2 separate regions of the Homo sapiens genome follow, and region 2 is reported to be linked to region 1. Evidence: microRNA targets listed by miRTarBase, many of them from high-throughput screens and not tested one by one. Region 1 holds a microRNA gene; the other region holds the end of a gene's coding sequence.

What was found. Region 1 holds the annotated microRNA hsa-miR-7107-3p (UGGUCUGUUCAUUCUCUCUUUUUGGCC, at 1,863-1,889, opposite strand). A microRNA usually pairs through its seed, bases 2 to 8, with sites in the 3' UTR of a target mRNA and lowers its output. Matches are read on the target gene's strand: a 7mer-m8 pairs with bases 2 to 8, a 7mer-A1 pairs with bases 2 to 7 and ends in A, and an 8mer does both.
Region 2: miRTarBase lists ETF1 as a target of hsa-miR-7107-3p. Seed matches in the 3' UTR shown: 7mer-m8 at 2,550-2,556.

The regions. Positions count from the first base shown.
Region 1 is chr12:121,442,417-121,446,416 of GRCh38, forward strand. It overlaps MIR7107 (microRNA 7107), which reads right to left and starts at 1,936; the gene lies at 1,857-1,936. It overlaps KDM2B (lysine demethylase 2B), which reads right to left. Exons shown (of 23, transcript NM_032590.5): 14 at 2,859-3,002; 15 at 2,034-2,120; 16 at 1,596-1,856; 17 at 1,264-1,377; 18 at 576-614; 19 at 1-420.
Region 2 is chr5:138,504,810-138,509,324 of GRCh38, reverse strand. It overlaps ETF1 (eukaryotic translation termination factor 1), which reads left to right. Exons shown (of 11, transcript NM_004730.4): 10 at 509-656; 11 at 938-3,230. The coding sequence ends at 1,020. Among named protein-coding and RNA genes, the nearest start is that of ETF1, 36 kb to the left of the region's middle.

The DNA of each region.
Region 1 (4,000 bases):
CAGCTCCCGGGGGGTGCCGTTGAGCCCCTTGCTGAAGCGGTGGGGACGCTCGCAGATGCCCGGGGGCCGCTTGGGCTCCTCGCCCTCGCTCTCAGGCTCCGACTTGATGGGCTGCTGGTTCTCGTTGGCCAGGCTGTTCTCCGTCCTCTGGATCTCGTGGTTGAGCTCCTTGCTCAGCTCCCTGCTCAGCTCCTTGTTGGGAAGCCGCCGCTTCCGGCGCATCTTCACCTTCTTCTTCTCCTCCGGGCCCTCGGCCCCTTCGGTGCTGGGTCCCGCGGTGGGGGAGCTGGAGCGGGAGTGGTCGCTCTCCCTGGTCTTGGGGGGCGCCTCGGGCAGTTCGTCCTCGGGTTCCTGCTTGAAGCGCCGGAGGGGCTTGTTGGCCAGCGCCATGCGGTCCTCGGCGTTCTTCCAGGACCGCCGCTGAGGGCGAGAGCGGAGACGCGTCAGCCTCTGGGGCTCAGGGCTGCGCCCGCCCAAGGCCTCCCGCCCCCCTGCCACGGGACTGTGGCCCAGGGAGCTGCGGTGCAGCTCTAACCGCTCAGGCCTGGGGCACAGGAGGGAGGGGAAGATGGTACCTTTTTCCTGAAAAGCTTATCTTCTTTGCCAGGTTTGAGCTGTCACGAAAAAGAAAGGACGCAGAGCTTGCTCCCCGGGCTCGTGGGATTTGGTCTCCTCGACACCCCACCCCACCACGAGTCCACAGTCTCCAGAGGAGGGGCTGGAGGGAGGCCTTCCCCACAAATGCCATCTCCACGTCTGACCGACAGACGGGCGAGCCCTGCCTGCAGCTTTCAAGGAAGAAGCTGGAAGTAGGAGTACAGTTGAACTGTTCCCACCCAACTGACCTCCCACCCCACAGACCTGGAGATGTGCAGCCGCCCATTCAAATCATCCTCGGCTCTGGGAGCCAGTTCTGGAGCACAGCCCTGTGGGAATCCCCGGCCCAGCAGGAATGGCTAGAGCTGGGAGAGACTCCTGGCGCCACCTTGTGGCTGGTGACAGCACGGCCCGTGGGTGGAGCAGGGCCACCAGGCTCCTCAGAGGTTCCCTGGACTCACAGCTTCCATCCCAACCAACAGAGGCTCTAGGCACAGACAGCTTCCCAGGCCCCAAGCCAGAACCACGAGCCAGAGATCTGGGGCCGAGACCTGGGAAGCCTCAGGAGAGGCAGCAGTGGGGTGGAGGACCAGCGGGGTGGGGTGGGGGACAGCCCAGGACTCGCCAGTCCCCGGGGCCTCAGGAGGGCGTGCGTCGTGGGAGCACCTGCTGCTGGAAGTAAGTGAGACTGGATCTCCACCAGGGGCTGAGGCTGCTGCCTAGAGGGGGCCTCGGCGAGAGGTGAGAGGAGGAACCGGGGGACGTTTGAAGCGATGAGGCCTAAAGGGGGGTGGAGTGGGAAGAGGAGTGACTCGCTGGTTTTCCCCTCCTTTCTTTGGGGCAGGGCTCTCAGGACTTAGGTGACCTGCTCAGGGCAGCAAGAGGCCGGGATTATCCCAAGCTCTACCTGCTGCCCACCCCCTGCCCCATCCCTCCAACCCAGCACCCGGGACCAGCCAGACCAACCCCTTTGCCTCCCAGCCCCTCCTGGTCCGTACCCGCTTGCGTCCACTCAGCTCCTGGGGCTTCTCGTATTTCCGCTTCTTCCTCAGGTGCACGTCGTCAGACTTTCTGCGCAGAAGGCCGTCCGGCGGCACCTTCTTCGAGTGCTCATCCGACCTGCGCCGGGGCGCCTCCTCACACTCACTCCTCCGCTTGGCAGGTTCCTGCCCTTCCTTGTTGTCCCGGTTCATCTTCTGCTCCTTGAGCAGGGAGCCGGGCAGGTTGGAGGCGTACTTAAAGCCAGGGCCACGCTTTTGCTTGTAGGCCAAAAAGAGAGAATGAACAGACCAACTGTATACCTTTGGACTTGCCCTTCCTCCTCCCCAGGCCGACGGCAACCCACCTGCCTGAAACTCCTGGGACAGGCTGGTCCCGGCCAGGCCCAGGCCCGCCCCTCTCCCGACTGACCCTGGGACTTGGAGCCCGGCACTCACTTTCCCGGTCTTGCCGGCGTGGTTACACTTCGGACACTCCCAGCAGTTTGGAAGCTCGTCGTTGACCACACCCTCTGACTCCTTAATCTGCGGGGAACACCAGGACTCAGAAGAGGGACGGGCGGAGAAGATGGCCCACGGGCACAAGGCTCTGTGACGCCACGTCTTCCAGAAGCAGCAGCACCCCCTCCCCAACGTCACATCTATCCCGTTTCCAGGCAAAAGAAAACACAGCTGCAGAGGCTGGCAGAGACGGGCAGCTGTGGATCCAGGCCAGGGTTCAGAGGCTGAGCCCCTTTGCTTCTCTGGGACCCTGGGCAAGACACTCCGTCTCTGTGGGCTGGTGCCCTCGGCCATAAAAGTTAGTGTGCCCATCTCACTGGGGGGGTATGACCCAGGTAAAGCCATGAGCTCAGCGCCTGGCATGCAGAAAGGACTCTGCAGAGGACTCTACTGGGTGCTGGGGGAAGGAGTGTGGTGTGGGGCCTTGTTCTCCCAGAAGCCTGGAGCCACCTGGAGGCGCTTCCTCTGGCCCAGCTACAAACAAGCAGCCTGTGTTTGCCATCTGCTGAGGCTCTGGAAACCCTCTCTGGTTCTGACATCCTGGGAGGTGGGGGTGTGTTTATTCCTTTGATGACACTGGGTCTCTGAGGTACTCCAGGCCCTCCTTGCCCCGGGCTTATCCCTTGACACACAGGATCACCCAGACTCAGGGGTCCTCCAGGAATTCACTGCACGACCTGCATCCCACCATCTCACCAGCATCTCCAGCAACCCTACCTGCCCCAGAGCGTCAGCACCACCTGTCCCCACTGGGCCACTCACCTTAAGGCATCCAGGGTGGATGATTTCATTGCAGATGGAGCACTCCATGAGCATGAGGTTAAACTTGCCTTCCTCCTCTTCCACCGTGTCTTCCTTCCCCGCCTCGCCACACACAAGGCACACGGCGGTGTGGGGCAGCACTGGCTGAGGAGCCAGGGAGAACAAGACAAGTCATCAGGGGTGGGGAGCACGGACCCCCAGGGGGGCCAGTTCAAGGGCAATGAGCTGCTCCCCTTGGGCCTGCCAGGAGACCCCCGGAAAGTGGCCCAGGCACATTCGCTCACTCATTCATTGAAATACGTATCAGGCTACTACCTCCACATGCCAGATACTACTCTTAATTGCTGGGGATACAGCAAGGAACAAGACAGCTCAAAATCTCTGCCATCCAGAGCTTACATTTTAGTGGAGGGAGGCAGACAAAATGGACAGAGCATGTTAGAGACAGAGACATGGGGAAAAATTAGAGGGCTGGAGTGAGGGGCAGAAGGGGGGCTGATTTTAAATATGGAGGTCAGGGAAGGCCTCACATTCAGAAAAGCCCCAAAGGAGCAGGGGCGTGAGCGCAGCCCAGATCCATGCGGATGAGATGAAGCTGCATCTCACCAGTGGGTATTCAAGGCACAGACCATGGACTGCGGGCTCCCAAGACCTTTACAGAAAGGTTAGGAGGTCAGAACTGTCTTCAGAATAACAGACGTTATTTGCCTTTTGCACAGTATTGATATTTGTACTGGCGGGTGAAACTCCTGGCCCCTCAGCACCAGGCAAGGCAAGGCCCCCAGCTCACCAGCAGCCATGGGGTGACTCATGCCATACGCTTATTAAAAAGATCACCAGGCCGGGCGCGGTGGCTCACGCCTGTAATCCCAGCACTTTGGGAGGCCAAGGCGGGCGGATCACAAGGTCAGGAGATCGAGACCATCCCGGCTACCACGGTGAAACCCCGTCTCTACTAAAAATACAAAAAGAAATTAGCCGGGCGTGGTGGCGGGCGCCTGTAGTCCCAGCTACTCGGGAGACTGAGGCAGGAGAATGGCGTGAACCCGGAAGACAGAGGTTGCAGTGAGCCGAGACCATGCCACTGCACTCCAGCCTGGGCGACAGAGCGAGACTCCGTCAAAAAAAAGATCACCAGTTTC
Region 2 (4,515 bases), not on the chromosome of region 1:
TCAGCTCTTCCACTGCAGTGGCTTCTCTGGTTTGCTCTAAGTGCATCACAACAGTTGAAAGTATGACCCTCCCGTATGAGATAGGTTTAAATGATAGCTTCCTCAAATTCTGGTTTGGAGAGCTTTGTTCTCTACGAGGCCACTCCCAAAAGCAGTCCTGGAATGTCTCTTCTGAGCCATTGAATGGGTGCTGCTTAGAGACACTACAACAGCCTGACTTCTAGAGTCAACAGTAGGAATCATAAGCTGAATACCCACTGAGTTTTTGTGTTGGTATTTCATAGCTGAGGGTAGAGCCTGAGGAGAAGTGTTGTTTGAAATAATCCGAATTTCTCTGCTGATATCCATTAGGTTATCAAAACCAGAGATGACTTACAGAGCTTTACACACAGACATGCCTATAAATGGGAGGATGAGAGTGATAGGTGGGCAAGGGGCTGTGAGAGGGACTAATTAGCCTTCATATATCCTAATCCCCCATTTTTGTATCTCATGGTCATCCCTGTAGACCGGACAGGAACATGAGCTTATCGAGAGCATGCCCCTGTTGGAATGGTTTGCTAACAACTATAAAAAATTTGGAGCTACGTTGGAAATTGTCACAGATAAATCACAAGAAGGGTCTCAGTTTGTGAAAGGATTTGGTGGAATTGGAGGTGAGTAGCAAATCAGCAAACCAAACTTAAAACCAGGGTCTCAGGTCAAGGTCCCTCCTGGCTAGCCCTAGCCCTGCTTCCGGTGAGGTGCTTATTATCTGCTGGGATAGGTGATTGACGCAGCAGGTGCAGGTTCCTAATTTGGACCCATGTTTATTATTACCTCTTTGCTTTCTGCAATTCTGCAAGAGAATAGGGCTTCCCTTATTCCCTTACCAGCCACCTACACACATGCCCATCCCATGAACACAGGTAATTTACCTTTTGGTTTGTTTCCCCAGGTATCTTGCGGTACCGAGTAGATTTCCAGGGAATGGAATACCAAGGAGGAGACGATGAATTTTTTGACCTTGATGACTACTAGGTAGTCGACATGGGTCCGGCAAAACGTGCCTCACCCTCCAGCATCCAACCCAAGGAGCATACCCATGGTGGAATCCAAACAGATCCCTGCCTTACAATTGGAACATTTCCAGAACTTAATCCATGAGCATTGGATATTGAAAAGAAAACCGAAACAAAACCAGACCCAGCCCTACACTTTGGTTTGTCATGGTGTCAGCGCAGCAGCCTACAACTAAGTTCCTAAACGCCACTTTGGACTAATTTAAAAAAGAATCCCAGTTTTTACTTTTACTGGATGGTGAAATTGGTTGCTCTTGTATTTTATGAAAAAAAATGATTTTTTTAACCTTCATACATAGAAGCAAAAATACTTTAACTGCTGTAAACCTTCAAAAGTTAATAGAAGTGAGATCATACTGGTTTGTTTCTTATTTTGATTGGAGAAAAATTAAATTGCTGCATTTCGCAGTGACCCATTTACATGGCATTCTCAGCTTAGACTGCGTAAGAAGAAATATATGTGGTGAAATGTTGGAACCATTTCTCTCTTGGTCTCTGTTTAATGTTGAAAGGGTGAGCTAATAGGAGGCACTTTCAACTTCACTCCCTCACGCTACCCCGTCCCCCTCCAGACTGGCAGTTTCAAGGATGCAAATTGCATTGCAAAATCAAACTGACTCATGAAGCATTTGGGCCAGTGCACTGTTTACTTCCATCTGTTTGCAGACACATTTGTGCCCGGCGTTTGGGAGCCCTTTGTATCAATGTTCTGACAAGGGTCCCTATAACCTTAACCTACTCGAAACCGGTTTGGGATGGATATGATGGGGCTTCTGTGCTATTGCTGGGATTGGGAGAAATAAAACATGCAATTTAAGTGGAAGCGAAGAAATTTAAAGAGGATTTTATTTTGCTTGGGTCAATCCTTGTTAAAAGGGAGGTGGATGTGTTTTCCTTGTGTTGGATGGCATGAGATTATGTGAATGTTTTGATTTATTAAAATGAACTGCAAGGTTTTTCACAGGAACGACAGACATGTATGACTGCATGTAATTATAAACTCCTGACCTCCTGGTGGGGTTGGAGCATCTGTTTCAAATGTGGGACTTACAAGCACTTCTCACATGAGAAATTAGGGGCGGGTGGGAAGGGATGGGACACAGCTTCTGGCACCATGGATTTAAGACCATGTTGGATCCAAAAGTTGGCCTGAAACCCTGAAGCTTATGCTTCACAGCTGGGCTGTAAGTCAGACTTGAACCCAGCTGATATGCAAGGTCATGGCGTGCCCAGGGTGGTGACAGTTGAACAAAGTGTATAGTACGTGCCCAGTGGTAGCGATGGAAAAAAGTATACCAAATGGACTTTGAAGGACCAAAGGTTTTAAAAGTCAATTGGTATCACCTCCACACTGACTAGGGTAGTGGGGTGCATTTGGTTTTCAAATTGGGTACTTTTAACACTTTAGTGCCTGACTGCTGTTCTTTACTGACTTGATTCAGTCACTCGTAGCTTTATTGGTCTGAACCAGCTCCTTGTTCCCAGGTTACAGACCTGCCTATCGTTCCAATAATCCTGTTTCACTTGAATGAAGGGAGTATGTCTTAAATGTAAAGTTTCTGGTTCTCACACTGTACTCTGAGGTCCAAATACTGTCTGTCAATGTGTAACCTGATGTCTCAACCCCCTGTGAGAAGAGTCCATTATTTGGTGTTCACCAACGTGGGAGACTTCACCGGAACAGGCTTTTTTGCTTTGGGCTCTGCTATTTGTTTGCAGAACACCCAAGAGCGAGCAAACATGCTCTCTTCACAGCAGTACCTTAGGGTTTTGCCATTGTAAATGGGTCTGATGTGATATGACAAGACCAGAGAAATTGGATGTAAATTTACATTTTTGAATATGCTTGTTGTTTCACATGATACATTTAGGGTATGCAGCTCCTTTTGTAGTTTTTATTTTTACTATTTAAGTTTGGAAATGATGCCAAATTTTTGTATTTCTTTAATCAATGTGTTCTCTTCGGTGATATATATTGCATTATATATTGATGTGTGTATCAATATATATTGATATGTATTACACTTACACATACAAACACATATAAGAGGGGGTGAAAACCGTAGCCTTTGCATTCTCTATAGCCTCTGCAGAGAGATACTAAGCAGCAAAATCTTGGTGTTGTGATGTACAGAAATGGAGAAGAGTATTAAACCATATTTAAGAATATACTTTGTGTGCTTGAGATTTTTTAGGACTGGTCTAGAAAGGCCTGAACTGTGGAGACAGTTCTCCAAGGCATACCTCAGATTAGTCACGGCCAATAGCATTTCAGCCTTGGGTTTGAGTTGTGTTTACTACATTTGTCTATGGAAAGGTATATGCAAAGTTTTTCTGAGGTCATGATCCCAGAGTTATGCTAGAAGAAGAAGGTTCAGGTTGCTGGGGCCAAACTAATTTGTATTCTCCCCCATTCTATATGCATGCCAAAGGGAATCTTGCTTTTTTTTTTTTTTAAGGTATGTTAAGTATATTATCCCATAACCCAGCATCCCATGGAGGTAGATGGTGTACCCAATTTTACAGGTGATGAAACAGAACAAAAGAAGGTTAAGTAGCAGCTCTTTAGTGATAACACCAAAATTTTATCCCAGGCCTTATTCCAAAGTTCTCTCTGTATCTGTCTTTGAGTCCTATAATAGAATGGTCCAGATGGAATAGCAGAAACTAGGCCTGGGCCCTCTCTCTCTCCCACGCTCCTTCATCTTACATACCTTACACTGGGTAGGAGAGTAGTAGCCCACCCAAAAGCAGGTCAGGGGCTGGTCCAGAGGAGCAGGGCTCCTAGGCCAGGTTCAGAGCAGAAGAGGATTTGTTTTCTTTGTTTTCCCCCAAGGTTGAGGTGCTTAAAGAGCCTCTTTGGTAGTTTAGGAAGCCTAGTTGAGGAGCCAAGGTGGTGCATGGTTTGCTTTCTCCAGGTTTGAGAAAACTGTTTTAAGTAAAATTGACCAGTAATGGCACTTGGCGTACTTTTCACCCATTTTCTTACCTGATCTAGGTGATAGCTCTGACGACGAAACTCAATTACCAGCTGGGAAGGGGCGAACATGCCTGTGCTGGTGGAAGTGTAATTTTCCCTCCTAATGCGTGTCTAGGTGCTGTTCTTGAAGACAAAATTGTTGGAAGGCAGCACAGTGGTGCAGGATATATGGGCTGTGGTCCTTGCCTGTCTGGGCCTGCAGCACTTGCCATCTTTTGTTCTCTGGCTCCAAGACGCATGCCATGACACTCCCAGACAGGCACGGTGGATTTAGGGCTGAGAGCCAAGGTGGAATTTAAGTTTCATGCCAGCTTCTCCTTTGTTGCCAGCTTGAGTGAATGCCAGGGGATTCCTGCCTGCCAAGTCCAGCCCTGATGGGACTGGGTCTCAGGGGACCTAGGAACTGAACAGCCAAGTGGTGTGGGAGCATCCGATTAGAGCTAGGGAAGCAGGGCACAGTTACTTGCTTGTTTT